5 separate regions of the Homo sapiens genome follow, and regions 1, 2, 3 and 5 are each linked to region 4. The links come from fine-mapping of genetic effects on gene expression. A gene starts in region 4. Each other region holds a variant in brackets. All regions are shown on one strand. Distances are from middle to middle. Region 1 overlaps GCLC (glutamate-cysteine ligase catalytic subunit). Region 2 has its middle 12 kb from the start of KILH. Region 3 overlaps GCLC (glutamate-cysteine ligase catalytic subunit). Region 4 holds the start of GCLC (glutamate-cysteine ligase catalytic subunit). Region 5 has its middle 5.2 kb from the start of KILH.

Region 1 (5,000 bases), 27 kb after region 4:
TAGACTGCACTTGATAGACTCTGTAACAGTAGAGCTGCAGACACAGTTGCATGCCAGCTTCTGTCAGCTGTGGTGGCTGCACCGTGGTGAGTGCACTCAGTGGGGGCTCAGTGGGAAAGACCAGGATACTGTGATGACAGACCAGCAGTGTGGCCGTGTCTGCCGCAGGCGAGGGTGGAGGGAGCAGCACGCCTGCCACACAGTTCTGACCCTGTAAGCAGTAGCCAAAGCTTCTGGAATGCTGTCCCCTGGTGACTGTGACAGTTGCGCCCTCATGCACTTTCAAAAAGCAGCATTTACCTGCTAGCATATGGTGGCATCAGTGGCAGATCAGAGGATCTGCAGTGCTCCCAAAGCACTATCGATACCGATGCTCTATGAACAACGTGAGTCATTAGGTCCTTGCATATTGTTCTGAAAAGAAGATTTAGGGTTTGTCATCAAATCTAGTTATGACCAAAAGTACATAAAAGTAAATAGTGAAATTATGTTCTTCGCTTAGAATGAGGTACATGAATATCATATGTATTATACATAGAACCTCTATGTAAAAATACATTTCTGCCAAAACATGAATGTGATTTATCTATGCTAGATGTCTGTCAGATGGTGACAGTATACTTAGCTCCTCAAAGTTCAAAGGAGCTCTGGGGGTTGGTATCAATGGTGGAGAACACTTTGAACTATTTTTATACCTTTTCTCTGATACGTGTCCGTCAGCCATTCAGGGTCATATCATTGGCCTCAGAGGGGCATTTAAATGGGAATTCTATTTTTTTTTTTATATCTCTACTGTAACATCTAAATAGTTGAAAACTTATTTAAGCCAGCCATCTAACATTTATAGAAGCATCTCTATTTCTGTGATACCTTCATTCTGTATGTACAGGTCACTTCTCTCTCCACCCCCAGAAGGAAAAACCCAGCTGGGTGAGGGTGGACAGATTTGTTTTGATTAGAGTGGGCACATTTCTTCGACCTAATGTTTGAAAGAGGAGGTGAAAAATCATTGGCCCTGCCATTCACTCAGACACTTGAGTGCCTGCTGCAGGCAGAATGGGCATGCTCTCATGAGTGAAGACGGACAGCTCTGTCTCTGTGGAGCTGGGGGGTTGAAGAACAATCAAATACCCATAGATTCATAAGCGTCAAAGTGGGGCTGTGCTAGCAGGAGGAGATGGGGAGCAAAGAGTACAACCTAGGTATCCAGTGGACTCTGGTGGGTGGAGGGGGAGGGGGTGGGATGTCCAAGGTTCCAGGAGGAGTGAAATAGGAATGAGGAGCGGAGGACAGTCTTAGGGAGGGGGAGCAGTGTGTGTAGAAGTCCTAGGATGAACCAAACAAGCGGGGACTTCCTGGGAACTAGAAGAAAGCAAGCTGGCCAGTGTGACTAGGAGGCTGAGGAGGAAGTGCAGGTATGGGGTAAAGGGAAGCTGGCAGGTAATTGGCAGGCCAGGTCAGGTTAACCATAAATTTTAGTTGTTCTCCTAAAAGCAGTTGAAGGCCTTGGAAAGGTTGGGTTGGGCAGATGGCATCCCCTTTTTGCTTTGCAGCCCTCACTTGGGCTGTAGTGTGAGAGTAGCTGTGGAGCTGGTGCCAGGGCTTACTAGGAGGTGAGTGAGGGAGCTCCCTGAGGGGAGACAAGGGCTGCCTGGATGCCCGTGGGTGCTGGTGATAGGAAAAGTGGGTGGTTTAAAAGATGACAGAGTCAGTGAACTGCTGGGGAGAGAAGACACATCAAGGCTTTTGCTATAGGTCATTGTCCTGAAAACCTTAAGAGTACTAGAGTAGAGGCCAAGGAGTAGGTTACAGATGTTAAATGACAACTTCTAGTGAACTGGAAAATTTAATACCTTATATGTTCATTTTTTTCCCCTTAACATTAAGAGGGTTGTACATTTCACTTAGCAAATTAAGAAAGTGGGAGGGGATTTGTAACACAAACCAGAACTGTTTTATATATTAAAGCTGAAGAATATATAGGATTGATGGGCAGTGGTGTTTCCTTCTGGGCCAGAAAATAAAGTTTTGGGTTAAGCCTAATGTGCCCTTTACCTTGAGAATGGTTCCATATGGGATAGTTGCCTTTTTAAAAAAGATTTAGTGTCTGGGCATGGTGTCTTACACCTGTAATCCCAGCACTTTGGGAGGCCGAGGCAGGCGGATCACCTGAAGTCAGGAGTTCGAGACCAGCCTGGCCAACATGGTGAAACCCCGTCTTTACAAAAAATACAAAAATTAGCCAGGTATGGTGGCATGCGCCTGTAATCCCAGCTACTCCGGAGGCTGAGGCAGGAGAACCGCTTGAACCTGGGAGGTGGAGGTTGCAGTGAGCTGAGATTGTGCCGCTCTGCTCCAGCCTGGGTGACAAAGCAAGCCTCCGTCTCAAAATAAATAAATAAATAAAAATAAAAAGATTCAGCATCTTAAGTCATTGTGAAGGGAAAGTTGAGACAGAGGAATAAGCTTTATTCTAAAAACCTGTAATTTAGAAAAAATTATATGTATAATTTTTTATACCCTGTCCATATAGGAAGGTATTTTGGGACTTGAAACAATAATTATTAGTTATTTAGTGGTTAGAAGCCTCCCTATACATCCACAATAAATGATAAAGTTTTGTTGTAGTATAGGATCAAGAGAGAAAGGAGTGCTCTGGTTCTTAAGTGTAAACAGGGTGACTTTATAAAGATGCAAAGATTTATAGTGTGGAACTCTAGTCCAAAACAGTAATCATGTGACTATTTAAAATTAAAATTATATAAAATGAAAATTGTAGTTCCTGATGTGACTGAGGAACTAGCCTCATTTCAAGGGCTCAGTAGCCACGTGGTTAGTGACTACCACATCGGTTTGGATAGTGGAGATATTAAACATTTCCATCACTCCAGAAAGTTCTGTGGGACAGCACTGCTCTAGAATGAAGCAGTGCCGTAGGTGTCCGAAGATGCAAGTTCTGATTCTACCTTCTCCCTTCCACACAAACACATTCTCATTCTCTCTTCATCCAATCTGATTCTGGTGAGCAAGGAATCCCCTCAGATTTAAGTTTATTACTCTCCCAAAGGACTATTCCTAAGGTT[C/G]TAGGCTCATAGTAAATAATGCACATAGCTTCAAGAATTCTCAAGAACCCTTGTAGCTGGGAACTGTTTTCTAGATAAGATCACTACCTTCAATTGTTTACAAGGTGGATTTGGGCAGGCAACAGATACTTTATTTTATATTAAGAAAAGGTAGGGGTTAAAAATAAGGCATTGATGGCCAGGTGAGGTGGCACGTGCTTGTAATCCCAGTACTTTAGGAGGCTGAGGCAGAAGGATTACTGGAGCCTAGGAGTTAAAGACCATTCTGGGTAGCATAGTGAGACCTCGTCCCTGGAAAAAAAAAAAAAAAAAAAAAAAAAAAACTTGGTACAGTGACTCATGCCTGTAATCCCAGCTACTCAGGAGCCTGAGGCAGGAGGATGACTTGAGCCCAGGAGTTCAAGGCTGCACTGAGCTATGATTGCACCACTGCACTCCAGCCTGGGAGACAGAGCAAGACCCTTTCTCAGAAAAAAAAAAAAAAAAAAAAAAATTTTTTTTTAAAAGATATGAGCTAGTCTTGATCCTCAAGCCAAAAGTTTCTTCCCACTAATTTAAAACTCCTCCCTTGTTTGGCTTTCGCTTAGTCTTTGTCCTCCCTCACAGCACATGTAATATTGACCTCAAATTCCTAACTTGGAAAAACTGGGGCCATCACTAAAAGTGATGTAGAATTTGAGCTTTACACTTAGGAATAAATATGGAGCTTCATTTTTCTGTGTTGAAATTAGAGCTCCTTAAGTCAAGTAAGAGAATAGGATTGGGTTTCAGACTTCAGAGGGTGATCTCAGGGGTAGATGGGGACACCTGCAGAGACACTCCCTAATCTTGAGGGACTCATGAGGTGACCTATAGAGGCAAAAAACAGGCTCCTTCCAGATTCAGAGCCTACCAGGAAGTGGGAGGCAGTGGTGCCATGCAGCAGGTCCAAAGATAATCTGAGAGTTTAGAGATGGAAAAGGAAGACACCTCATAGGCCATGTAGGGGACACCTGTCACCCATGACAGCTGATGTGACCAAGGGAAATGACTTCTGTGCTATCAGTCCTTCCTATTAGATGAAGAGATGGAGAGGACCCGAGTAAGTGCTGTGTGGTTTGTGAGTGAGTGGAGACTTGGATAAAGTTAGTAGTGGGCTGGAATTAAAAGAAGATCCTTGTGAGCAAGAAGTGTGGGGAGTGGTTGTAAAGGGGCACAGTATTTACACAACATCTGTTTTGTAAACACAAAGCCCTCTGAAAAGGGGATACTAGAAATGAGGTGTCTTTGGCAGGTGCAGTGATGGCAAGACTGCACACAATTAATTCTTGAAAACAAATCCCATCTATTTAGTTCTTCAATTTGTTGTAGATTAGGCTGTCCTGGGTTCACACTGCCCGAGGTCAAACCCAACCCAGTGGAAGGAGGAGCTTCCAAGTCCCTCTTCTTTCCAGATGAAGCAATAAACAAGCACCCTCGCTTCAGGTGAGTATGGCTTTGTGTTGAAATGCAGATGCCCTTCACTAGACCCCTGACTTCTGAGAGTATAGTATTTCTGTCTAGAAATCCTTTTTGAGCATTAACTGAGTTTTGGCTCTCTTCCTAAGTAACCAGAGAAGATAGCAGATGTGCACCTGTTCACATCTTCAGTACCCCCAGGCTTCTTGGTTGTTGATGCGTGCACCAGGCTTGATTTGTCAATTCTCCAAGTCGTCACAAAGTTATTCGCTGAGCCACTGCGAATAACTCTTTTAATAGGGAGATTATTTTCAGTCCTAGGTCTGTAAATGCCTACTGGGATTTTTTTTTTCTCTTAGTTATTTCTCCTTTTTTGTCCTCTCTAACCATCAGTATCTGTGATTTGCCCATCTTACTCTATATAACTTATAAAATAGGTGCAGTACCTGATATATATAATAGGCACTCTCTTCCATTAAC
Region 2 (6,554 bases), 40 kb before region 4:
GGAGATATGCATAATACACATTCATATTATACCCTGGCTCCCATCCCCCAGGTCAGATTGCCCCCTGGAGTGTTATTCTTTTGCACTTCAAGTGTGTGCATCTGTCACAATGTCTCAGTGGGTTTCTGAGGACACCCACACAGCAAGAACAGAGAAGTAACAGAACAGCGTGAGATATGCGGTGCATCTGAGGCATTACCAGGACGTATCTGCACCTGTTGATGCCAAGTGAAATGTAAAAGGTGCCCCATATACCCACCAATCACAAACACTTATTCATACAGTTCACACATGCTCTCGTTTGTAGCCCTCATGTGCCTCTCAAATTGTACCCTCATCTTCTGTGGGCCTGACTGCCACGCAGTACCTAGTAAACATTAAAAAACATTTGACTCTCGGCCGGGCACGGTGGCTCACACCTGTAATCCGAGCACTTTGGAAGCCGAGGTGGGAGGATCACCTGAGGTCAGGAGTTGGAGACCCACCTGACCAACATGGTGAAACCACATCTCTACTAAAAATACAAAAAAATTAGCCAGGCATGGTGGTGCATGCCTGTAGTCCCAGCTACTTGGGAGGCTGAGGCAGGAGAATTGTTTGAACCCGGGAGGTGAAGGTAGCAGTGAGCCGAGATGGCACCACTGCAATCCAGCCTGGGTGACAGAGTGAGACTCTGTCTCAAAAAAAAAAAAAAAAAAATTGACTATAGAGAAATGCCCTCAACCCATCTTTTTCCTGGGTCCAGAATATTAGCAATATCTACACATAGAGATTTTCACAAGTGGTCCTCCTGATTTTAATTATCTTTTTGAGATTAAAAAAGGAAAAATGCTAAAAATAAACATGTGCTTTTCAGAGTAAAAAAAAAATAAAACTGCAAACCATGAGGAGTCACCAAACAGTTGCGACTGTGATCTTTTATTTTACAAAATTATAATTTTTCAGTGCATGCTAGACAGTTTGGGGTGAAACATGCCAAGCAAATTTGGAGGTTAAAAACTCTGGCAGACTGGAAAAATATTTTCAAGACTATACAAAAATTTAGAAAACAAACATTTGATTTTCAACATAGACAATTCAAAACTAAAACTATAAAGAAAACAAATCATTTTTTGCTATTTACATGATTGCTACATGCTATAAGGTAGATATTAAGCTCTATAAAGTAAATGGAGAAATTGGGCTCTTGAAAGTAAATGGAGAAATTAAGCTCTAGAAATTACTATAGGTGTGGCTGGATAATATTTTTAAACACAGTTTCACATGCACCCACTCACATTTCCATGCTCTCCTTGCCCTTTCAGATTAAGTCATCCAGGGCATTGTTCTTTAAAGCTTCAGGGCAGGTAACACCTGGCAAAGTGAAAATAACAATGGAATCAAATGTTTGGCATTTCAGTTTTGAAAGGCTGGGCCTTAGCTTAGAGACACATGATTTGGGAGCGTGCATTTTCTGAAATGGAGAAGGAGAAAGATGGAGAAGGAGAAAGATGGAGAAGAAAACTGTGTGATTAGAATACTTGAGAATTGAGAAGAGTATAGTGCTGCCCTGTCCGATATGTCAGCCACTAGCCATGTGTGGCTAAGCACTTGAAAATGATTAGTCCAAGATGAGGTGGACTGAAAGTGTAAATTACACATCAGATTTCAAAGACTTAGTAAGAAAAAAAAGTAAAATCTCTCATTAATTTTTACATAATTATATAAAGAAATCATAATAATTTGGATATATTGGGTTAAATAAAATATACTGTTAAAACTAATTTCACCTGGCCTGTTTCTTTTTTTTCTCTTCTTTTCTTTTTTCAAGATGAGGTCTTGCTGTGTTGCCCAGGCTGGGACTTGAATTCCTGGGCTTAAGTGATCCTCCCCTCTCAGCCTCCCAAGTAGCTGGGACTCCAAGTGTGTGCCACTGCCCTGGCTCCTTTTTAATTTTTTTCTAATGTGGTCATTTAAGACAGCCATATTGACATAATCTAGATACATCAAAGAGAGAAAATATTTTAAAACAAAAAGTAATTACTTTGGAAGAATAAAAGCCAATTACAATTACCACAATAAAGAAAAATAACATTATTATCTAAAATATTGTTACAGTCTAAATATATAATTAGAGTGAAGAACACATACAATAATTTCATTAGTGAAATGTTCAGATTAATTTGCTACAAGAAATAGATAACTTGAAAACAACTCTGGCTGGGCACGGTGGCTTATGCCTGTAATCCCAGCATTTTGGGAGGCCGAGGTGGGAGGATCACTTGAGCTCAGGAGTTCAAGACCAACCTGTGCAACATGGTGAAACTGCATCTCCACAAAACATACAAAAATTAGCCAGGGGTGGTGGCACATACCTGTAGTCCCAGCTACTTGGGAGACTGAGGTGGGAGGATCATTTGAGCCTGGGAGATTTGGTCTTTGGAGGAGATTGCAATAAGCCAGGATCACACCATTGCATTCCAGCCTGGGCAACAGAATGAGATCCCTGTCTAAAAAAAAAAAAGAAAAGACAAAGAAAGAGAAATAAATAAATAAATAAATAAATAAATAAATAAAGAGAGAGAAAGGAAAAACAACCCTAACATTTAATTAAATTCAGCACAACTATGAGGGTGATGTGTGCCGGGGCCAGTGGTAGTTGCTGGAGCTTTAAAGTTGAGAAAATCCCATGTGGTCTGCCTCCCGGAGAAAAGCACACATTTCAGAAAACAGTGATGGAGGAAATCCCTGGAGGTGCTGGAGGGGGTGGGTTTCCAGACCTGAGACATCAGAGAAAGCTTCTCAGAAAATGGATCATGTAACCTGGACCCTGAAAGAATAATTAGAGTTAGTCAAGCCAAATAGGGGAGGGAGGGGAGAAGAGTATTCCAGACAAAAGGAACTACATATTCAAATGCTGAGAGGTGAAGAGAACACTGATGAACCAAAAGAAATTAGGTTGGCTAGATGACAAAGTTTGGAAGAAATTAGATTGGAGAGTTAGGCACATTATGAATCATTCCCCTAATTTAAATCGTGAACTGTATGGGTGTTTATACAAAGGGAAGTGGAAAGAAATTAAAGAGTTTTAACAGAAGGGACGTTCATAACCAGATTTGCATTCTAAGGTCTTTCTGACAGCTGTGTGGAAAATGGAGGGGAAGTGGCAAGGCCGGGGCAAGTGCTCCAGTTACAAAGCTGCTTCATAATCTAGGCAAGAGAAGAGGATGGCTCGGGGCTGGGTAACATGGTAATGTGGCTGTGCGGATGAGGAGAACTGGATTTAAACAAGAACTATTCATGGGGATAGAACTGGTGGGACATATGAATGAACTGGAGATGGAAGAACTCAAGGATGATGCCTGGGTTTCTCTCTTGGGTAACTAGGTAAACAGCCATGTCAGACACTGCAGATGGGATACAAAAAGAGCTGAGGGAGCAAAAAGCAGTGTGCGGGTGGGGGAAGCGGAGGTTTCAATCTTCAGTTTTGGACATACTGAGATTGAGGTAGGTGCCTGAGAGATATCCAAGAGATGTTTTTCAGTAGATGGCTGGATTTCTGATGGTCAGGAGAGTGACTTCAATTGGAGACATTGCTTTGGAAGAGATGAATACATACAAGATAATCAAAGCTATGCAAGGGAGGAGATTGCACAGGAAGAGTGTGTAGAGGAAGAAGAGGAAAAGGCCCAGGACCTAAGCTGAAGGAACATCAATATTTAAAGATGGGGAGATACAAAAGAGCCCTCAACAGACACTGTAGAATGGTCAGAGTAACAGGAAAAAGAGCAGAAGATAGTGGTATAGCAGAAGCAAAGGGAGTAACGTTCTTCAAGAAGGGAGTGATCAACAATGTCACATGCTGCTAAGAGGTTAAAATAGAAATT[G/C]AGAAGTATCCATTGGATTTAGCAATACCAGGTTCTTTGTGGCCTTGGTGAGAAGGTTTCATTAGCATGGGAGAGCAGAAACCAGATTACAATGGGTTGAGGAGTGGCAAGTGAGAGAGAGACAGCACAGAGACAACTGCTGCATCCAATGGATTTACAGCCAAGGACTATAATTATGGCTTCCTAGAATATATCCCTTGGAGCCGTTGCATAGCAGGAATGAGTGACTGAGAGATGAGTGGATGGTGGATAGAACTCAGAGTGGTAATTTTTATATTTAAAAAGTAGCCTGTTGTTGAACTGAAAAGCAGTAAATACCAACCACTCCTTAAGCAAATGCTGACTGATAGTGTACTAGGCAGAGCAAGACTAAAAGCTGGGAGAATCGGCTGATCTTTCATCCAGCTACTAACCGAAAATTTTACCCCTCGCCCAACTTCAACTTCACGCTGTGCACCAGAGATAATAAAAAATAAAGATCTCTGTCAACTAATTCATTTAAATCCTTAGGTAAAAATTCAATAGAACCGACAGCCAGCTGCAAGAAATGTTACATTTTAAGACTCTATTTTTACTTTCTGAAATCATCCTAATCCAGTAGTCACAGCAGGTTAAATTAAGTTTTAAAAAATTTTAAGATAACTAAAAATTCTATATAACAATAGAATATATATATTCTGTATAACAATGCACCCCAAAATGTAGTGACTTAAAGCATGTATTATTGTCCTTGGTTCTGTGGATTGGAAAGAATCCAACACCTACTTTCCAATGGGTAGTTCTTTCGGTCTGGGCCTGCACAGCTGCTGGCTGCTGGCTCACTCACACATCTGTATGGTAGCTGGTGGTTCAGCTGGAGTTGGATGGGCTAAGAGAGCCTCCGACTTAGGTTTGGTGGCTGGTGTTTGTTAGTTGGAGTAACAGGGATGGCATGACCCTGTGTCTCTCTTCATCCAGAGGCTCATTCACATGGTTATCTCAAGGCTCGAAGAGCAGCAAGACAGCAAGCCCCAACAATGCACAAGCACCTTTCAAGCCTCTACTTGCAGTGCATTTATTTGTTAATAATGTCCCATTGGCCAATCAAGTCACATGACCAAGCCCAAATTCACCAGGTGGAGAAATAGAATTCACCTCATGATGGGAAGACCACAAATTCACATTGCATAGGGTATCCATAAAGAGATGAGATAATTTGTGTCTAATTTTACAATCGATCACAACTATTTTTTGCTTAAAAATACTTATTAGGAACTTCCTCCTAATTTAAACTTAGTGGAACCATAAACGTAATGAGTCATACATTTGCCACATGTTCACGAAATAAGACTCTTACTTCTTTTTTGTCTTCAAAAGTGGCACTAAATCACAATAAAGGAAGGGTATTCTGAGGACTTTGAGCTCCTTAAGGGGCTGTCTCTTTTCTGTATCCCCAACACTATGGTAACTTTATTTGAATGAATGAATGATTTATTACCTGTATCAGTCCTTTCTTGCATTGCCATAAAGAAATACCTGAGACTGGGTAATTTATAAGAAAAGTGGTTTAATTGGCTCATGGCTCTGCAGGCTGTACAGGAAGCATGGCGGCGTCTGCTTCTGGGGAGGCCTCAAGGAACTTTTACTCATGGTGGAAGGCAAAGTAGGAGCAGGTATGGATTAGTGGAGAGAAATCATGGAGAAATAGTAAGAGTAAGGGAGAGGATAAATACTTAGTGACTTACATTTTGGTGGTGACTAAGACTAATAGGCATCCCAGTCTATATAAAAATATCTTGATAATAGCTTAACATTGAAGGCTTTAATGGAAGGTGAAACAGAAACTACATGAGTTTCTCTGAATGACGGGTGGAGATTGAGTGTAAGGAAGTGCTTCTTGAACCTAAGTATACCTTAGAATCTCCTGAAGAACTTTTATAAAATACAGGTATCCTGGCCTCATTCCCAACCAATTAAATCAGAATCAGTGGGAACAGACCTGAGCACTGGTAATTTTTGGCAGTTGTATTCTCTTTAAAATCCCCAGGTGCAGTCAGTACTGAGAAATATTGGTATATGGCAGTGATTCTCAGAGTTGATCCCTGGACTAGTAGTGTCACTATGAGTTGGGGACTTGTTAGGAAACACATTATCAAGGCTTGCCCCAGATTTACTGAATCAGAAACTCTGGAGGTGGAGCCCAGCAATCCCTGTTTTAACAAACTCTCTGGGTGATTATGATGCATGTTAAAGTTTAAGAACCACTGGTATATGGTGGGGGTGGGAGCACAGGGGGAGTAGCTACACTGTATCTATAAGTATCCTTCATGGTCAGCAGAAGTTTCCTTCCCATCAGCATTTTATGAGAATTCTTACTGCGTCTCACCAAATTCTTTTTACATATGATTTATAGCAGAATTAGAGGCATAAAAGACAGGGGGAAAAATAAACAACATTATCTTACTTAAAACTGAACATTTTTCATATGTTTGTAATTAACATAAAACTTGCGTGCTACAGTTCAAATTGATTTCCTTGATTTTAACCTGAAATGAAAATGGAGATCAGCCAGTTACCATTCTGTGGAGAGACAAACACACTGAACAATTGCAAAAAGGATAACAAATAGTTCATCCAGCCTGCTTTTAGAAAAATCACAGAATAAAGGTAGTGTTTCAGTTACCAACTTTCAACCCAGTAATAGGAACA
Region 3 (5,000 bases), 36 kb after region 4:
TCCTAGCAACATTGTGTGTCTCCTTCATATGATGCCTCAAAACGACACTAGAAGCCCAAATTAGTCATGTATTCATAGCTTTTTAAGGTATAAGAACTTTTTTTCCTTCCATTAAAGCCATTATCCACAGTGATGTCCTATTTAATTTGATTGCATATCAGCTGTAGACTAAGAAAGCTAATTACTAAATGCATTTAAAATAACTAAGTCACTTCACTGTTGTATACTTCTCTGGGGTTGAATTTCCCAGGATTCACCTACGAATTATGTATTGTATACTAGGCCATCTAAGAGAAGCCAGTTGAAAAACTGGAAAGAAAACCTGCTTCTCATAGTATCTTTTTAAAAACAAAAATGACACATACTCAAATACCTAAGAGCAACACAAAAAAGACCTAAAAAATCTAAGAGATGCATGTTCAAAATAATTCTTTAGTCAAAATACTTGGGAAACATGTAGTTTTTTGTTTTTTGGTTTTTTTAAAATCTCAATGCCTTGTCAGTTTGGCTTTTGGGGTCCCGGTCTTTCAGGTTTCTCACTATACCTTTGACCGCATGTCATCCTCTTTAGCACCCCCCCCCCACTTTTTTTTTTCCAAGATTCTCATTTGTTAAGCACTAACCAGGTATCAGATGCTGTCCTGCGCACTTGGGATAGAGAATGGGAAGAAAGATCCCCGCCCTTCTGGAGCTTCTACTTCAGCAAATAAGTGCATAAAGACTTTGGGTACCAGCTCCCATTTCCTCACTGCTCATGTAATTTCATGCCATATGCAAAGCGATTTCCAAGTTCCCACCTCTTTGCAGAAACTGCCCTTGGTTTGGTTATCAGTGACTTAATTGCCAACCCTTATCAATTTGTGTCTACTTTAACCTTTGAAACTCTTATTCTTTGATGCCTATGACACAGCTTTTCTCTGTGTTGAATTAATTATTAAATTAGTAATGACTAGTTAATACAGTCTCCACATTGACATGAAATGTGGTTATAATTGAGCAGGCAAACTTGAGTCTCCAATAGACATTGCTGTGGAAAACAAAGTTGAGATCTAGCTAAAACCATTGGAACTAACAGGTTGAGATTATAACAGTAAAATATTCACTTAGCTGCTGTTATTTCAAGTCTTAAACACTGAAATTATGTCGTGTACCAACACTAAATTCAAGCTGTCATTAATGAATAACAACATGAAATTCAAACTGTCATTATTGAATAACAACAGAGGAGATTAAAACTGTTCCCAACTTGCAGTTATTACAAATGTGCTAACAAACACAATTTGTGTTCCTTGCCCCTTCTACCGTCTTGGAAAAAAAAGCAGGTTTTTTTTTTTTTGGTTTCTGTTGGGTAACAAAGAATTTATGCTCACCAAGTTATATGATCTTTTCTCTGCCTAACTCTTAAGTGTCCTACCTACCATCCTTGTGCAGGCTTCCTGGGTGATCTCCCCATCTTCAGGACATTCTCTGAGCCTACTCCCCAGGTCTTTCTACAACTCGGGTTTTTCTTCTGGGCACCAGCCCTGAAGACCTAGCCACTTAGAGGGCCTCTTTTTCTGTCTGTTCTCTTGGCCTCGTAAGTCCATCATGTCATGACACCTCTTTATCTCTAACCTCTGAACACCCAAGCCAAAACCTAAGCCATCCCCTACTCTCAGTCTCCCCTTGGTCACCAGTGCCTGCTACTTTGACTTTAGTATCACTCTCCCCACATCTTTCCTCAGCCTTTTCCTTGACAGGTGCAGTATTTTAACTGCTTCCCTGTCTTTCTAGTCTTTCCCCCTTCCAAGCTCTTCACCATACTGCCACCAGTGAAGTTTGAAAACAATAGTTGGCCGGACGCGGTGGCTCACGCCTGTAATCCCAGCATTTTGGGAGGCCGAGGCAAGCAGATCATGAGGTCAGGAGATCGAGACCATCCTGGCTAACACGGTGAAACCCCATCTCTACTAAAAATACAAAAACAAAATTAGCCAGTCGTGGTGGTGGGCACCTGTAGTCCCAGCTACTCGGGAGGCTGAGGCGGAAGAATGGCGTGAACCCAGGAGGTGGAGCTTTCAGTGAGCCGAGAGCGCGCCACTGCACCCCAGCCTGGGCGACAGAGTGAGACTCCATCTCAAAAAAATAAAAGGAAGAAAGAAAGAAAACAATAGTTAACATGTCCAAATCCCTTTTGCATCCCTCACTGACTGAAGGGATAGGAAGGCAACAAGCCAGTAGAAGAGAAAATGCTTTGCTAAACATCATCGTATGTCTGTGTCTTATTTTTCTTTTTTGACTATTTAATCTTATTTCACTTAGGACCTTGGTTATTTATATTAGTTGTCTATAGGCAGTGGAACATAATTAAATACCATTTTCTAGTTAAATTCACCTAAGACAACTTTTAAACAAAACTCTTGCGTTAAATGTTGCCATTAATGAAGCGTTGTTAACTTGCCCCTCTCTGCCCAGCACCTTCCTTCTCTGACTTCACTGCTTGGGGAGCATGCTAATGATTCCTTGGTGTTAATAACTTTGCAATTCTTAAACAGGTGACATTCCAAGCCTGCAGTATATCTGAGGCCAGATACCTTTATGATCAGTTGGCTACTATCTGTCCAATTGTTGTAAGTAGAAATTACCTCTTATTTTAAATACTACTTCGTATGAAATAAGATAGCATGTGCAGAATTTACTGACAGTGTGCTATTTAAGTCCAGTTAAGACCTCAGTCAGAGATGGACTAATATAAATAGTATGTAGGTTTAGGTATAATGAACTGAGAGTCTACACTGTAGAAGTTTACTCTTGCTAGTACAACATTGATTTGTTAAATGTGAAGTTTGAATGTGGCCATTTTCCCTCCCCCATACTTCATGTCCTCACATTAGAGAGAGGATGATTTAAGTGAATCAAACCCAAGGAACTGGATTCTTCCTGGTATATTTCACTGTAAGATAGGCACAGGTACATGTG[C/GTGGAGC]TCTGTATGGGTTGCATAAACATGCTTTTTGATCAGAAATATAACTGCATGGAGCTTTTTTTAGCATGTAAGTGACACTTTGAATTTGCAGGAGCTGACTTTTGTTTGTTTTTAGATGGCTTTGAGTGCTGCATCTCCCTTTTACCGAGGCTATGTGTCAGACATTGATTGTCGCTGGGGAGTGATTTCTGCATCTGTAGATGATAGAACTCGGGAGGAGCGAGGACTGGAGGTGGGAATTGTTTTTCCTTAATAGCCCTTTTAAGTCAAGCAGGTAAAATGGATCTTTTGTAACTACTTGCAATTTCAGGATGTCTCCCTGCAATTTTTATCTGAAATGGGGAAAAAGATTTGGTCTAGGTGGGGAGTTAATTTTTATCGTATGTTGATGTCTGTATTTGTTTTAGCTTCATTTAAAATTAGTAGTCCGATTTTTCTATATTTTGGAAGTGCTGATGGCTGTTTTTACCAAAAGGCTTTTTGGTGCCACATGAGTGTTTTGTATATGGTGCTTTCTGCTGTGGAAAGTATAATTTGTTGTCAGAGATTCTTTTTCCATGTAAAAGGTTAGGCATTGACTAATAAGGGTGAGATGGCACCTCTTGTTTGCATGTTGAACTGTAAAGTAACCCTTGCATCTCTCCAACAAGGGGTGTGCATCAGAACCACCCATGGAAATCTTTGAAAATAGACACCCAGACCCTATCCTAGACCTACTAAATAAGAATCTCTAGGATGGGACCCGAACAAGGGTGTTTTTAAAGGAGCCCTCATAAGTGGTTTTGATATTCTCAACCAGGGCTATACTACTACTGCTCTGGTCTTCATGTAATTGTTCATAAATTGTTGAACATGCTTTCTAAGTAGAAATAAACTTTAAAGGATAATTATTTTGATAGGTTTATCTTACGTTATAGATTTATTTATTTATTTGCTTTTAACCTTAGTATTTATTTTCCCTAGCTTAATAAGAATGAAAGTGATCTGCTTTTAAAAGATAAAAGTATATTTAAATCATACCAGAAAAAAAGGGTATTTAAATTGCCTTCAGATTTTAAAAAACATAATTTTCCTTAATAATACTTTTTAGGGCTCACTAACTTTTTTTCTGTATCTTATGTTGAGGTTTTTATATAATTATCATATATAAAAATATATTCCACTCATTTTATATAGCATATTCATTTATATATATTTTTAATCTTTAGCCATTGAAGAACAATAACTATAGGATCAGTAAATCCCGATATGACTCAATAGACAGCTATTTATCTAAGTGTGGTGAGAAATATAATGACATCGACTTGACGATAGATAAAGAGATCTACGAACAGCTGTTGCAGGAAGGTGGGTTTCTACTCCATCTTTCTGGGTTTGAATGTACGCCTTTAGTTCTTCAAAGCTCTTTTACACTTTTTTGCTGACTCCTGGTCTGGTTTCTATTTTTAGTGCAAAGTCTTTAACTTCTCTCATGAGGCTACTTGTTCCTAAAGTTTCAGGTTCCAAATACTTGTGAGATTTTCTTGATTTTTAGCAAAAGGAGCTTACTTTGGAGGTCTGTGTCTAGGTCCACACCAGTGCCCCAGCAGGCATTGTGTAAGTAGTGAATAAAACGCTGACACTCCCGCAGTGTCCGCAGGATAAAATACTGGGTGAGGTGAGGATACTAATCAAACCAGCTATTTCAAGCTTCTAGACACCCTTTCTTCAAACTTCCTGAGCTATCCTGTCGTCTTTCTGGACTAAGAGGAAGTGGTATCTCTCGCTTTGCAGTGAGTTCCCATGTGATCTCTTTTTGCAGGCATTGATCATCTCCTGGCCCAGCATGTTGCTCATCTCTTTATTAGAGACCCACTGACACTGTTTGAAGAGAAAATACACCTGGATGATGCTAATGAGTCTGACCATTTTGAGGTATCTTCTCAGTTTTATTTTTATTTATTTATGTATTGACTTCTGAGAGTCTGGAATCCTCTGTTTTATATGCATTTCACTTCACAAACCAACATGGGGAGGCAGTTTTCTGTACCTGTGGAGAACAC
Region 4 (6,481 bases):
CAGCTTAGCCACTACCTGTTACTTAGTATTACTGGATCTCAGTTGCCTCACTTATAAAATGTGGCAAAGATTAGTACTGTTTTACGGATACCAGCTCAAAGTGCCTGGCATAGAATGTGATATACTGGGACCCAAGCGACAGACCACCAAGGTCAAGGGATACTCAAGCCAAAGAGAGCGGTAAAGGCAGGGGCAGATAACCTAGAAGTGCCTTCCTCAGAGTCCCCTGGGCACTCTCTCTGTTTTCCTTATTTGATCTCGCGAAGCCGCTGACTCAAGGGAAACTGGGAATGGCGTGACCACAGAGAAAATGATGTATTTTTTGGTCCTTGGAGGCCCGAAACCCATCGTGTCTGAAACGACTGCGGCAATCCTAGCAGCAGCAGCAGCCCAGAGGTCAGGAGTGATGGACTGAGACTTTGCCCTAAGAAGCCTCCCCCAGATTGACCTCCGGCTCGGAGCCCGCACAAAGCGCTGAGTCACGGGGAGGCGGTGCCGCGCGCGGGGGAGGCGGGCCCGCGCAGTCACGTGGCGGGGGCTGTATCACAACAACTGCGCGGCGTGCGCCGCCCGCGGCCCACACCGCTTCCTCCCGCGACAGGCCGGCTCTCCGAGCATGCTCAGCTTGGCCTCACGACTGCACGGCGTCCCCCCATGCGGATCTCCACGGTCCAGGTTTTCCGGACGGCTCTGGGGGCGGGGCCTGTGTTGGTCCGCGGGGCTGCGAGGCGAGGTTGCGGTGCCAGGGCGCCGCTGGGCAGAGATGGGTTCCTGGAGAGCGGGTCTCGCGTTTTTCCGCGGAAGACACTACTGGGAATCGGCCTTTGGTCATGGTCTAGGGAAGAGCTGATTCTGCAAGATATGAGCTCCTTCTTTCCCCTTCAGCTATCGTTACAGCCCTGATGGAGCTGTCTGCTGAAAACTCACTTCCAGATGTCGAAACCTGGCCCTGGGTGCAGTCTACAGAATGAAATCGAGCAGTAGTGGACCTATGCAGGCAAAGCATTGTCAGAGGGGAGTAACTCTTGTTAAATATGACTTCAGTTGATCCGTGATGGGATTTTTGTTTTTTCTTTGTAACAGAAAAGGCTAAAGACACTGAGAGATCAAGGTTTAAATTGGGCATAACTGCCCTGTGGTGCAGCAGCGCCGGCGCCCTTTTTGGGATTGTCCAAAGCTCTGGGACCCCCGCTGGGGGAGCTGGTTCAGAATTCGGGGGGGTAGGATAGGGTGAGGGAGGTCCCTTATGTGAGTGTGAGCCGGGATCTAGGACAGAGTAACTCCAATTACAGTGTTAAACTCTTACTAGGTTCAGTGTCGCGTAGGGCTTTGGCTAGACTAGAATTTAGTCTATTATTGAACCGCCCAGGTCCATGATTCCTAACAGGTGCATGGGAAAAGTGTATGGTGTGCAGCAGGTGTATGGGAAAACTGCTTTGCAAAGTGTAAATCAAGGTCTACATCAGTACTGTTTCAATAAAGTGGAATGAGAGCCACATATGTAATCTTAAATTTTTCAGTAGCCTCCTTTAAAATTAAAAATAAAAGTGGGTGGGGGTGGTGGTAAATTAAATAACATACCACATCATATTTAACTCAAAATTTCCAAAATGCTATATCGCTATGTAATCAATATAAAACTTTTAATGAGATATTTACATCTTTTTATTCTACTGTCTTAGAATCTGGTGTGTGACTTACACTCACAACACATCTGGGCCACTAAGTTTTCATTGGAAATACTTGATCTGTAATTACATTTCATAAAATTTACAGTCAAAAATGGATTCACATTTCCAACTTGTTTCAAATTTACTTAAAAGTTTTCCAGTAACTGAATGGAATATCAGTTTTTAAATTTACATTTAAATTGATTAAATTAAAATGAAAATTTGGTTTCTCGGTCATGTTAGCCACATTTCAAATGTACATTGGCCAATGTGGCTGATGGCTGTCGTGTTGAACAATGCAGGTCTATGAGAATGTCAGATGACATTATGAGAATAACCCAATGATCCTTGGATGTCTTACCTACATGGGAAACACTGTTTCTCCCCCTCTCCCACTACCTGCTTTTCACGGAGAAGCTAACATTTATTAAGCACACACTCTATACCAAGCACTTTTCTAGAATTAAAGGTACAAAAGGCATAAGTCATCTGTGCCCCAGAGGAATTCACTATTTAGTGTGGAGCTATCTTTAAAATGACTCTATCATTAATGTACGAATGCAACCAAAACACAGAGAGGAATAACTGTGACTCAAGAGATGAACATGAGTGTGTCAGATGGAGAATTTCAAGCAGGAAAAACAACAGAGTGCCAGAACCATATACAGATCTGGTGAGGTTGGTGGGAGGGCAAAGGAGGTTGTTGAAAAGGCTGTGGAAAAATTAGAATGTGGTTTGATTTCTATCCCACCTGTGTGATGAGGATGGAAACATCTTCTCCTGAGCTTCAAACATCCCTACCACACACAGACACACACACACAGACACACAGACACACACACACACCATTGTGGAAATCCCAGCCAGACCTTGGGTATTCATGCCCCCAAGCCCTGTGAGGGGCACATCCAATATGAAGGCTGTGGGAGAAGAGAATCCTGCTATCATGTACTCACTCATTTAGCAATTAATAAGTGCTTACTAAATGTTAACTCTGTAGTGCGAGGGAAGAGGGTATGATAAATACACACTTTCTGGGTAGGTACATGTATGATCTAGTTGCCTTCACTTTTCCCCTGACAGGTCATTGCTCTGTCAACACATATTTATTAAACAATCACTTGGGGGCACGGTACCTCCTTCCTCTCCTTTCCCTCCGAGATAAGGCCAACTCTAGGTGTTCCCACTATCTTCAACCCCACCCCACGGTAGGCTCACAAGAACGTCATTTTGATCACTTAAGGGATGAATTTTAGGTTTAGATGGAGGATAAACTTTTGGAGATGGTTCCTCATATGGTCTGTCTGGAGACTTTTTGCAATAAATGGTGTCCGTGCCATCCAGAGAACATAGGTCACCAGTTAATCAAGACAGTAGGGAATAATGATTTACACATGTTGACAAATTGATTCCTCTTAATAACCAGGTCAATTTTTTGGCCAACACTATACACATGTACACTATGCACATAATTACGACATCTATAAAAGATAGAATTAATCTAATTTTATGCAGATATGGGAAGAACTCGTCCCAAGTCTCACAGTCAGTAAGTGATGGAGCCTAGAGTTGAACTGTTTCACTTCACTACCATGTTAATACTTTTCTCAACACATTCTGCCGCTCTCACTCTAAGTGTGAGGCCCTGTCCAACTAAAACATAATATGGTGAGTTCGTCATTGATTCAAATAATCAACTTTCTTCCCGAATCCCAAGTTTATCTCTTCTGATTAGGAAAAAAAATGCATTTTGATATGTCGCGTTTGCGTAAAGCGAGGCCGACCGCACGCCCCCTTCTCGCGAGCTGCTCCCCTCAACTGCGACCCAATCACCCTTGCACACGCCTCCTGAGCCCCCGCGGTTCCCACCGGGCTTCAGGCCACGCCTCCGCCGCTGCACCGCCTCCTCTCCCCGCCTTCGCCCGTAGTCTATAAAACCTGGAGCGCAGGATCGCGCCCAGGAGCGGCGAGCTAGCGGACGCAAAGACTGGGCATGCTCCGCGGCGGCGCAGGTTTTGGTCACAAGTAGGAAGAAGCCAGTGCACCAGACCGGCAAAGAGAAGCGGGAGCCGCCGCGGCAGCGCGGCCGTGGGGTCCGCCGCCGCCGCATCGGAGCGGGAGGAGGAGCAGCGGGGAGGGCGAGGCCGCCGGGCCGAGAGCCGTCCCGCCTGCTCTCGGTCTTCTGCCTTCGCCTCCGCGCGGTGCGTCGGACCCAGGGTCTGTCACCTGGGCGCCAGGGGCCGCCGCCGGGGAGCCGGAGCGGGCAGGACCCTCCCTCCGCCGACTGCGGCCCGAGAGCGCCCCCGCGGGGTGGAGCGGCAGCCGCCTTCTGCGGGCGGCTGAGTGTCCGTCTCGCGCCCGGAGCGGGCGACCGCCGTCAGCCCGGAGGAGGAGGAGGAGGAGGAGGGGGCGGCCATGGGGCTGCTGTCCCAGGGCTCGCCGCTGAGCTGGGAGGAAACCAAGCGCCATGCCGACCACGTGCGGCGGCACGGGATCCTCCAGTTCCTGCACATCTACCACGCCGTCAAGGACCGGCACAAGGACGTTCTCAAGTGGGGCGATGAGGTGAGCGCCCGCGGTCCCCGTCCCCGCCGGGCACCCGTGTCTGGCCGCCCGCGCTGCCTTTGTCTTGCCCTACGCCCCCGGCCCTATCGCGGTCCGCGTTCTCCACTGCGCCCGGGGGTCCTCGAGCGCCTCCCGGCCCCGGGAGCATCGTCCCTGCTTTCGCCTAGTCCGCGTCCAGGGCCATCCTCCTGACTAGACTCCTTTCTTGTTCATTCATTCTTTTGGGTTTTCCCCTTCATTCCATAAACACGGATTGGGCGCTGGGAGGGCGTGAGCATGAAAAAGTGACATTAGGTGCTGCGAGTCTTCAACCTAGTGTATCTGCAGACCGGCAACTACCATGATCCACCTTACAGGCTCAAAATTCGCTTTTGCGGTCAATATGAAAGAGATTTAAGTTTTCCTAGTAGGCCTGCTGCTTTTAGAAATCAGGTCTTCAGGATGTCCACTTCTGCCCTACCTCATGCAGGTGTCTTTTCCTTAAACCTCTCCAACTTCTCATCTTCCCTCCCCTCCAAAACACACACACTTCATAGCTATAAATTGAAACCAGTAAATTACGGCTCAGTTTCCTACATGGGGGAGGAACCTTCCCTTTCCTGTTTAATTCTAAGTGGGAATGCATTTAGAGTTTCAACATTAGGATTTGCTTGTGTCTTTCCATGGCCTAGGTCCAGCAACTAAACTTTACAAACCAGTGTTCTGCCTAGAGATGAAATGTCTCTAGATTCTCAGTAGGTTGAACCATTGTTTATTGGAATGATCTGGAATGCAGCAATGTTAAAACTGTTGATTTAGTGTCATCTGCCAAAACTTTTTGTGCCTTCCCTTTCTGTTTTTGAAAATTACGTGTGTATGCAGTACACATTAAATGACTTCTTGAGAAGTCCATCTCTGTTTTTGTTTTTAGCTTTTGCCTTAGATGGCTTGCCACCTGTGTAAATTGTTTATCTTTTGGCCAGTGTTGTTATCAATCTTGGCCTAAGTGCTGACGTGCTGTTACACCAGTGCAGAATATCTCCTTTCAAAAAGTTAGTTTTTTTTTTTTTTCTAAGATTGGGATTCTACCTCCTACAGCTGAAGAAATTGTGCTGTTTTAAATTAGGAAAGTATGATGACTAGTAATTCACATTTCTACAAAAAGTGGTTTGTCACACTTCTTTGAACAGAAAAAGCACAGCATGTGTTTTGGTGATGATTCTTCAGTTTTACTGTAAAGTTCATAGTTTCTTTACAGCATCTGCCATTTTGTATATTCATTTTTGTATTGTGTGTCACAGGAAAATGTAAGACGAAATTGGGCAGGGACATTATGCTTGTTCACCTCTGTTTTCCTAGAGCCCAGCCTTGTGCCTGGTGTAGTTGGCATCAGGTCCTTGTGGCATGAATGAGTGAATGAACTACTATTTCAAGTTCCCACTGTATGGTAACTAGTCATTGTAGAGCAGTTCAAAGTTTGACATTTTTTTGTGCTGCTCTTTTTTTTTGAGACAGAATCTTGCTCTGTCGCCCAGGCTGGAGTGCAATGGTGTGATCTCGGCTCACTGCAACCTCAGCCTCCCGGGTTCAAGCAATTCTCCTGCCTCAGCCTCCTGAGTAGCTGGGATTACAGGTGCCTGCCACCACGCCCAGCTAATTTTTGTATTTTTAGTAGAGATAGGGTTTCACCATGTTGGTCAGGGTGATCTCAAACTCCTGACTTTTCACCCGCCTCGGCTTCCCAAAGTGCTGGGATTACAGGCATGAGCCAATGTGCCGGGCCCTGTGCTGCTTTTGACATTTAACTAGGTCTCTCTACAAAGACAGGCAGTTCAAGTCTTTGGTAGTCATTGTCCCAGGTAGAACTACATCAACAGGAAATTTGCAGCACAGTTGGAGCTCAGCAACTCCTTCTGGAGACAACACCCCACCCCCCACCACCCCTTATCCATCTTTGTCCCATTTGGTGTATTCCTGCAAGACACTCCAGGAATCCTTAATCTTACCCTTTTAAAAAAGGCCTCTCCTGTTGGCAGGAAGAGCATTTAGAACTACCTATTTTAAGTAACTTTTGTAGTTGTTGGGTAAATTGAAGTGGGAAGAGCTGAAGAGTAGAGCCTTGAAGTACGTGTCTCTGCTTTAACAGGCTTTCATGGAGAGATTTGCAATAGGTTTACCTCCTTCCCACTCCAAAAGATCAAGGGGCTTGGAAAAGAGTGGCCATAATGCAAACTTGTATTATGCATCTATAAAGGAGAGAAAATTGG
Region 5 (6,554 bases), 33 kb before region 4:
AAAAAAAAATCTTCTCACTTCAACATACAAACTATTAATCCAGATCTCCATTATTGCTTACTTAAACTAGTAACAGGGTTTCCTTCCTCCTTTTATTGCACTCTGCTGAAAGATTAATCTTCTCACAGCAAAACTCAAAAACTTTCAGTAACCTATCCCCCACTGCTGGCCCCTGAAGTACAGACAAGATCAGGCACAGGCCACAGATGCCCTGGGGAATCAGCCCTAGAAAAAAACTGTGAGAAACTCCTGGAGACACTAAAGGCCATCATAAACTTTGGGTGGGGAGGAATGCAGAGTTAGAATAATAGGTAGAGTGCTGCTAGGTTCTGCTCTCCTTTTCTCTCCTCTTTCCTTTGGACCATTGCCTGTCCCATAACCACTGTGAGTCAGGAGGCAGCAGCAATCACCCACGCTAAAAAGGGGAGGCTGACCAGCTTCCCTGAGCACTCACTCCTCCAGTCCTCCTCATGTGTGGTAAATGGTGCATCACTTATGAGATGACTACCGGCTCCCTTTCAAAGGCTTTAGAGGAGAATCCCTAGCAGAGTAATGCCTAGTGGAGGGGCAACAGATGGCTTGTTGACTATCGTTCCAACACCTAAGGGACTCTCTGGGACTCAACTCCTTAATCTTAAAACCATAAGGAACACAGAAAGTAGGACCTGGTATTGGTATGTCACATTGGTACCTGATAACTCCAGGGGAACATCAGCTCACAGCTTAAAATACCTGAGGTTAGAACCACTGCAAAAAGAAAAACACACACTGAACATACACGATATCAAGCAGAAATACTGGAACAAACAAATTAAGAATTTAAAATAAGCACAACCACGCTGGGCACGATGGCTCATGCCTATAATTCCAGCACTTTGGGAGGCCGAGGTGGGCAGATCACTTGAGGTCAGGAGTTCAAGACCACTCAGGCCAACATGGTGAAACCCTGTCTCTACGAAAAATACAAAAAATAGTTGGGCATGGTGGTGGCCATCTGTAATCCCAGCTACTCGGGAGGCTGAGGCAGGAGAATCACTTGAACCTGGGAGGTGGAGTTTGCAGCGAGCTGAGATTGCACCACTGTACTCTAGCCTGGGTGACAGAGTGAGACTGTCTCAAACAACTGAAACAAAATAAGCACAATCAATATTGTCAAAAAGCTACTGGTAATAGGAAGCAGGAAAAAAGTCATAAAGACAGACAGACATTATACATAAAGTATAAAAAATTATGCTTCCAAGTAAGACTCCTAGATGGGATAAATAGCAAGCTGAATGCAGCCAAAGGAAAAATTGTAAAACTGAAAGAGCAGACTGAGGACATCTTTCAGAAGGCAGAAAAAAAGATAAAGAGAGAAATACAGAAATAAAAAGTTAAATACCATGGAGGATAAAAGTAGACATGCTGACATCCTGAAAACAGGAGTCCAAAGGAAGAGAACATAAAGGGAGGACAAATATTTAAGAGAATAACAAAAACAATTATCTCTAAATTAAAGATAAAAGAAGTCAGATGGAAAGGGTTGCATGCCAAATAGGAGAGATTAAGAACCTAGAAAGATTATTGCACATTTAAGAACAAAGAGAAAGAGAAAATACTAAAAGCTTCCAGGAAAAAAAGAGCATATGTCCTCCAAAGATACAAGAAGATTTGGCAGCAGATTTCTTAACAGCAACACTGGGGCCAAATATTTGGGGATTTTTCAGATATTATTCTGTTACTGATTTCTAATGTAATAACATTGTGGTCCGAAAACACACTTTATATGACTTAAACCCTTTTAAACTTATTGAGACATTTTATGGTGCACAATGTGGTTTATCTTGAACAGATACTCTACCAAAGAAGGTAGATGGATGGGAAATAAGCACATGAAAGACAGGCAACACCAATAGTCATTAGGGAAATGGAAATTAAAACCGTAATAAAATACCACCACACACTAACCATACCAACTGTTGCCAAAGCTTTAAAGGAGCTAGAACTCTAACATGCTGTTAGTTGGAATGTAAAATGACTCAACTACTTATATAGTTTCAAATCTCATGCTGAAATGTGACGCCAATGTTGGAGGTGGGGCCTAGTGGGAGGTATTTTGATCATGGAGCGGATACCTCATGAATGGTTTAGCACGATCCCGTTGGTGATGAGTGAGTTCTTTCTCTATTAGTTTGTGTAAGAGCTAGTTGTTTAAAGAAGCCTGGCATCTCTCTTGTTACTGCTTTCACCATGTGACACACCTGTTCCCCCTACACCTCATGAGTAACAGCTTCCTGAGGCCTCATCAAAAGCTGAGCAGATGCAAAGTGCCATGCTTGTACAGCCTGCAGAACTGTGAGTCAAATAAACCTCCCTTCTGCATAAATTACCCAGCCTCAAGCAAAGCGAACAGATTAATATGACTACTTTAGAAATAGTTTGGCAGTTTCCCAAAAAGGTAAATATACAGACCAGGGGCAATGGCTCATGTTTGTAATCCCAGCACTTTGGGAGGCCGAGGTGGGCGGATCACATGAGGACAGGAGTTTAAGACCAGCCTGGTCAACGTGGCGAAACCCCATCGCTACTAAAAACAAAAAAATTAGCTGGGCATGGTGGCATACGCCTGTAATCCCAGCTACTCAGGTGGCTGAGGCATGAGAATCACTTGAACCTGGGAGGTGAAGGTTGCAGTGAGCCGAGATCATGCCACTGCACTCCAGCCTCAGCAACGGACCAAGACCCTGTCTCTAAATAAATAAATAAATAAGTGAAATATACACCTTCCAGATGATCCAGAATTCGACTCCAAAGAATTACCTCAGGAGAAAAAAAAGCATATGTTCACAAAAGACTTGTATATAAATGTTCATAGCAAATTTATTTGTAATAGTCCAAACTGGAAATAATCCAAATGTCTATTACTAGGCGAATGGATAAACAAATTGTAGCACATTTATATAATGAAATACTATTCAGCAATAAAAAGAATAAACTATTGATCCATGCAACAACATAAGTGAACATCAAAATAATTATGCTATGTAGATAAAAGAGAGTACATACTGTTTTAACCATTTATAAAAAATTCTAGAAAATGCAACTAATCTATAGTGATAGAAAGAAGATGGGTCGTTGCCTGGGAACAGGGGAAACAGGCAGGCAGGCGTGGGTGAGCAGGGTTACAAAGCAACACAAGGAAGTTTGACGGTGGCGGGAGGGGGAAGGTAGAGATAAGTATGCTCATTATCTTGATTAGGGTGACGGTTTCAAGAGTGTATACCTA[C/T]GTTAGAACTTTCCAAAACATACGTTCTAAATATTTGCAGTTTATTATATGTCAATTATACCTTAATAAAGCTGTTTTTTAACAAAAAACATAATAAATGAAAAATAGAATTTTTATCTGATAAAGACATATGAAATTCAGATGCTGTTTTTATTTTCAAAAATGAACAAAGAAAAGAGAGAGAAATAAAAATATATTTATAGCATAATAATCCAGAACTAAAATTCTAAATAATATCAACACAGTAGTGGAGAGGAGGAGACAAAAAGACATGAGTTGGTAGCATCAGGGTGAGTCCATACAGGAGGCAGAAACAGAGTTAGCCGGGTTCTAAAGAACCGAAAAATCTAAAAGGGAACCATTACCATCACACCAACCCTATTCTCCCCAGTAGTAGCAGTATTGTTCCAGTAGCAACAGTTGGTTCCAGTTTGCAGTATTTCCAATGTTCCCAGAACCAGCCTCAACATAACCGAAGAAGTCTTAGTTCCAACTCTTCAGGGCAACTCACCAAATTTATAGATTTTCTTTTTTTTTTTTTTTTTTTGAGACATGGTCTCACTCTGTTGCCTAGGCTGGAGTGCAGTAGTGCAATCACAGTTCGCTGCAGCTTCAACCTCTGGGGCTCAAGCAATCCTCCCACCTCAGCCTCCCAGGTAGCTGGAACCACAGGTGCGAGCCACTATGCCCAGCTGATTATTTGTATTTTTTGTAGAGACGGGATCTCCCTGTATTGCCCAGGCTGGCCTTGAGCTACTGAACTGAAGTGTCCACCTGCCTCAGTCTCCCAAAGTGCTAGGATTACAGGCATGAGCCACCATGCCCAGCCCAAATTTATACATTTTAATAATTTTAACATCCTCTGATATTTTGCAGAAATACTGAGGAAATGTGAACACCACTTATTTAAGAAATATTTTCAAAATTTTCACTACAATTTTTTTTTTGAGACAGGGTTTTGCTCTCTCACCCAGGCTGGAGAGCAGTGGTGCTATCTCAGCTCACTGCAGCCTTGACCTCCTGGGCTCCAGCAATCCTCCCACTTTAGCCTCCCAAGTGGCTGGGACTACGGGCCCACACCACCATGTCTAGCTAACTTCTCTGTATTTTCTGTAGAGATGAGGTTTCACCATCTCGCCCAGCCTGGTTTCAAAATCCTGGAATCAAGAGATCTTCCCACCTCGGCCTCCCAAAATGCTGGGATTACAGGAACGAGCCACTGTGCCCAGCCTTTACCACCTTTTTTAAGGAAGATAATAGCATTCAAGTTATGTTTCCTCCCCAAAAAGCCCGTATCTTTTAAAGATTTATACTAAAATATTTACAGATGAAATAATATAATATCTGTGATTTTCCTCAAAATAACCTGAGGGGAAGGAATGGGTGGATGGGGATAGAGATAAACCAAGATTTGGCAATAATTTATCATTATTACAATTGGATGGTAGATAATTGAGAGTTCATTATAATATTCTACTTTTTTGTGTTTGAGATTTTCCATTTTTTATTTTTACTTTTTATTATTCTTTTTTTTAGACGGAGTCTGTTTCTCTGTTGCCCAGGCTGGAGGGCAGTGAGGCGACCTCAGCCCACTGCAACCTCTGCCTCTTGGGTTCATGCGATTCTCCTGCCTCAGCCTCCTGAGTAGCTGGGACTCTAGGCGTGCCACCACGCCTGGCTAATTTTCGTTTTTTTTGTTGTTGTTGTTGTTGTTGTTGTTGTTGTTTTGAGATGGAGTATCACTCTGTCGCCCAGGCTGGAGTGCAGTGGCACGATCTCGGCTCACTGCAAGCTCCACCTCCCGGGTTCACGCCATTCTCCTGCCTCAGCCTCCCGAGTAGCTGGGACTACAGGCACCCGCCACCACGCCTGGCTAATTTTTTTTTTTTTAGTAGAGACGGGGTTTCACCATGTTAGCCAGGATGGTCTCGATCTCCTGACCTCATGATCCGCCCGCCTTGGCCTCCCAAAGTGCTGGGATTACAGGCGGAGCCATCGCACCTGGCCTAATTTGCATATTTTTAGTAGAGACAGGGTTTCACTGTGTTGGCCAGGCTGGTCTCAAACTCCTGACCTCAAGTGATCTGCCTGCCTCAGCCTCCCAAAGTGCTGGGCATGATCCACCGCGATTGGCAGAAAAATATTTTTAAAGCATGCATACAATAGTATTTATATAATAAAGACACATACAAAGAAAAGCATAAATATCAAGTGCCCAAGAATTGCTGCCATTGGTGGGTGATGGGGATGGAAATCAAAGGCAGAAATAAAAGAAAATAAAAATGAATGAATGATGGAGAAGGAGGAGCCTAACACAGACCATTGGCCAAAGTATGAAATAAACTAAGGAGTATAATTGGACCAATCTTCAACAAACAGGAAAACTGGAAAATGAAAACAGGAAAAACAAAACAGGCCACGTGCAGTGGCTCATGACTGTAATTCCAACACTTTGGGAGGCTAAGGTGGGCAGATCACTCGAGTCTAGGAGTTGGAGACCAGCCTGGCTAAAATAACGAAACCCTGTCTCTACTAAAAACAGAAAAATGAGCCAGGCGTGGTGGTGCACACCATGCCTGTAATCCCAGCTACTCAGGAGACTGAGGCACAAGAATCACTTGAACCTGGGAGGCGGAGGTTGCAGTGAGCCAAGATCACGGCACTACACTCCAGCCTGGGTGACAGAATGAGACTCTAAAAAAAAAAGTCCTATGTCAGTCCAAAGGCTGGCATTTAAGGATTTAAGGTCTCCTAAATTTGGTCTTGGCCTACCTTTTTAAGCTTATTTTTTCACCCACCTTGAAAAACTAACATCCCATCAAAATTAAATATCTATTGTTGACCATGTGTCTTAGTCTATTTCAGGCTGTTATAATAAAATACCATAACCTGGGTAGCTTATAAACAACAGAAATTTATTTATGACATTTCTACAGGCTAGGAAGTCCAAGATCAAGGCACAGCAGATTCCATGTCCGGTGAAGGCCCACTTTCTGGTTCATAGAGGGTGCCTTCTTGCTGTGTTCTTGCATCATGGAAGGGTTTAGCTAGCTCTCTGGGGTCCCTGTTGTAAAGGCACTGATTCCAATTACAAGTGCTTTACCTTCATGACCTAATCACATGCTAAAGCCCTCACCTCCTAATACCATCAGTTTAAGGGTTAGGATTTCAACATATGAATTTAGGGGGGATGTAAGCATTCCATTCATTTCACCATGTATAGCCTATTCTTCATTGATCCCATCATACAGTTTCTGATGGTTCTACTGCCCTAAACTCTGCCCATGCT

What was found. PIP is the estimated chance that this variant, and not a neighbour inherited with it, causes the effect.
Region 1: its variant is the best candidate, but not a certain one, in a credible set for the expression of GCLC in testis (GTEx, PIP 0.64).
Region 2: its variant is the best candidate, but not a certain one, in a credible set for the expression of GCLC in monocytes (TOPMed, PIP 0.89).
Region 3: its variant is the best candidate, but not a certain one, in a credible set for the expression of GCLC in left ventricle (GTEx, PIP 0.56).
Region 5: its variant is the best candidate, but not a certain one, in a credible set for the expression of GCLC in whole blood (INTERVAL, PIP 0.73).

The regions. Positions count from the first base shown.
Region 1 is chr6:53,515,656-53,520,655 of GRCh38, reverse strand. GCLC (glutamate-cysteine ligase catalytic subunit) reads left to right here. Exons shown (of 16, transcript NM_001498.4): 4 at 4,434-4,547. Among named protein-coding and RNA genes, the nearest start is that of GCLC, 27 kb to the left of the region's middle. The variant C/G (reference allele first, on the strand shown) is at 3,084.
Region 2 is chr6:53,582,263-53,588,816 of GRCh38, reverse strand. No RefSeq gene overlaps it. Among named protein-coding and RNA genes, the nearest start is that of KILH, 12 kb to the right of the region's middle. The variant G/C (reference allele first, on the strand shown) is at 3,867.
Region 3 is chr6:53,506,785-53,511,784 of GRCh38, reverse strand. It overlaps GCLC (glutamate-cysteine ligase catalytic subunit), which reads left to right. Exons shown (of 16, transcript NM_001498.4): 7 at 2,535-2,609; 8 at 3,074-3,190; 9 at 4,167-4,305; 10 at 4,760-4,872. GCLC-AS1 (GCLC antisense RNA 1) reads right to left here. Exons shown (of 5, transcript NR_183318.1): 5 at 4,874-4,987. Among named protein-coding and RNA genes, the nearest start is that of GCLC, 36 kb to the left of the region's middle. The variant C/GTGGAGC (reference allele first, on the strand shown) is at 2,959.
Region 4 is chr6:53,542,250-53,548,730 of GRCh38, reverse strand. GCLC (glutamate-cysteine ligase catalytic subunit) reads left to right here and starts at 3,630. Exons shown (of 16, transcript NM_001498.4): 1 at 3,630-4,235. The coding sequence starts at 4,086. RefSeq lists silencers at 360-589, 3,657-4,086 and enhancers at 4,307-4,366, 4,205-4,946, 5,885-6,481.
Region 5 is chr6:53,575,183-53,581,736 of GRCh38, reverse strand. No RefSeq gene overlaps it. Among named protein-coding and RNA genes, the nearest start is that of KILH, 5.2 kb to the right of the region's middle. The variant C/T (reference allele first, on the strand shown) is at 3,266.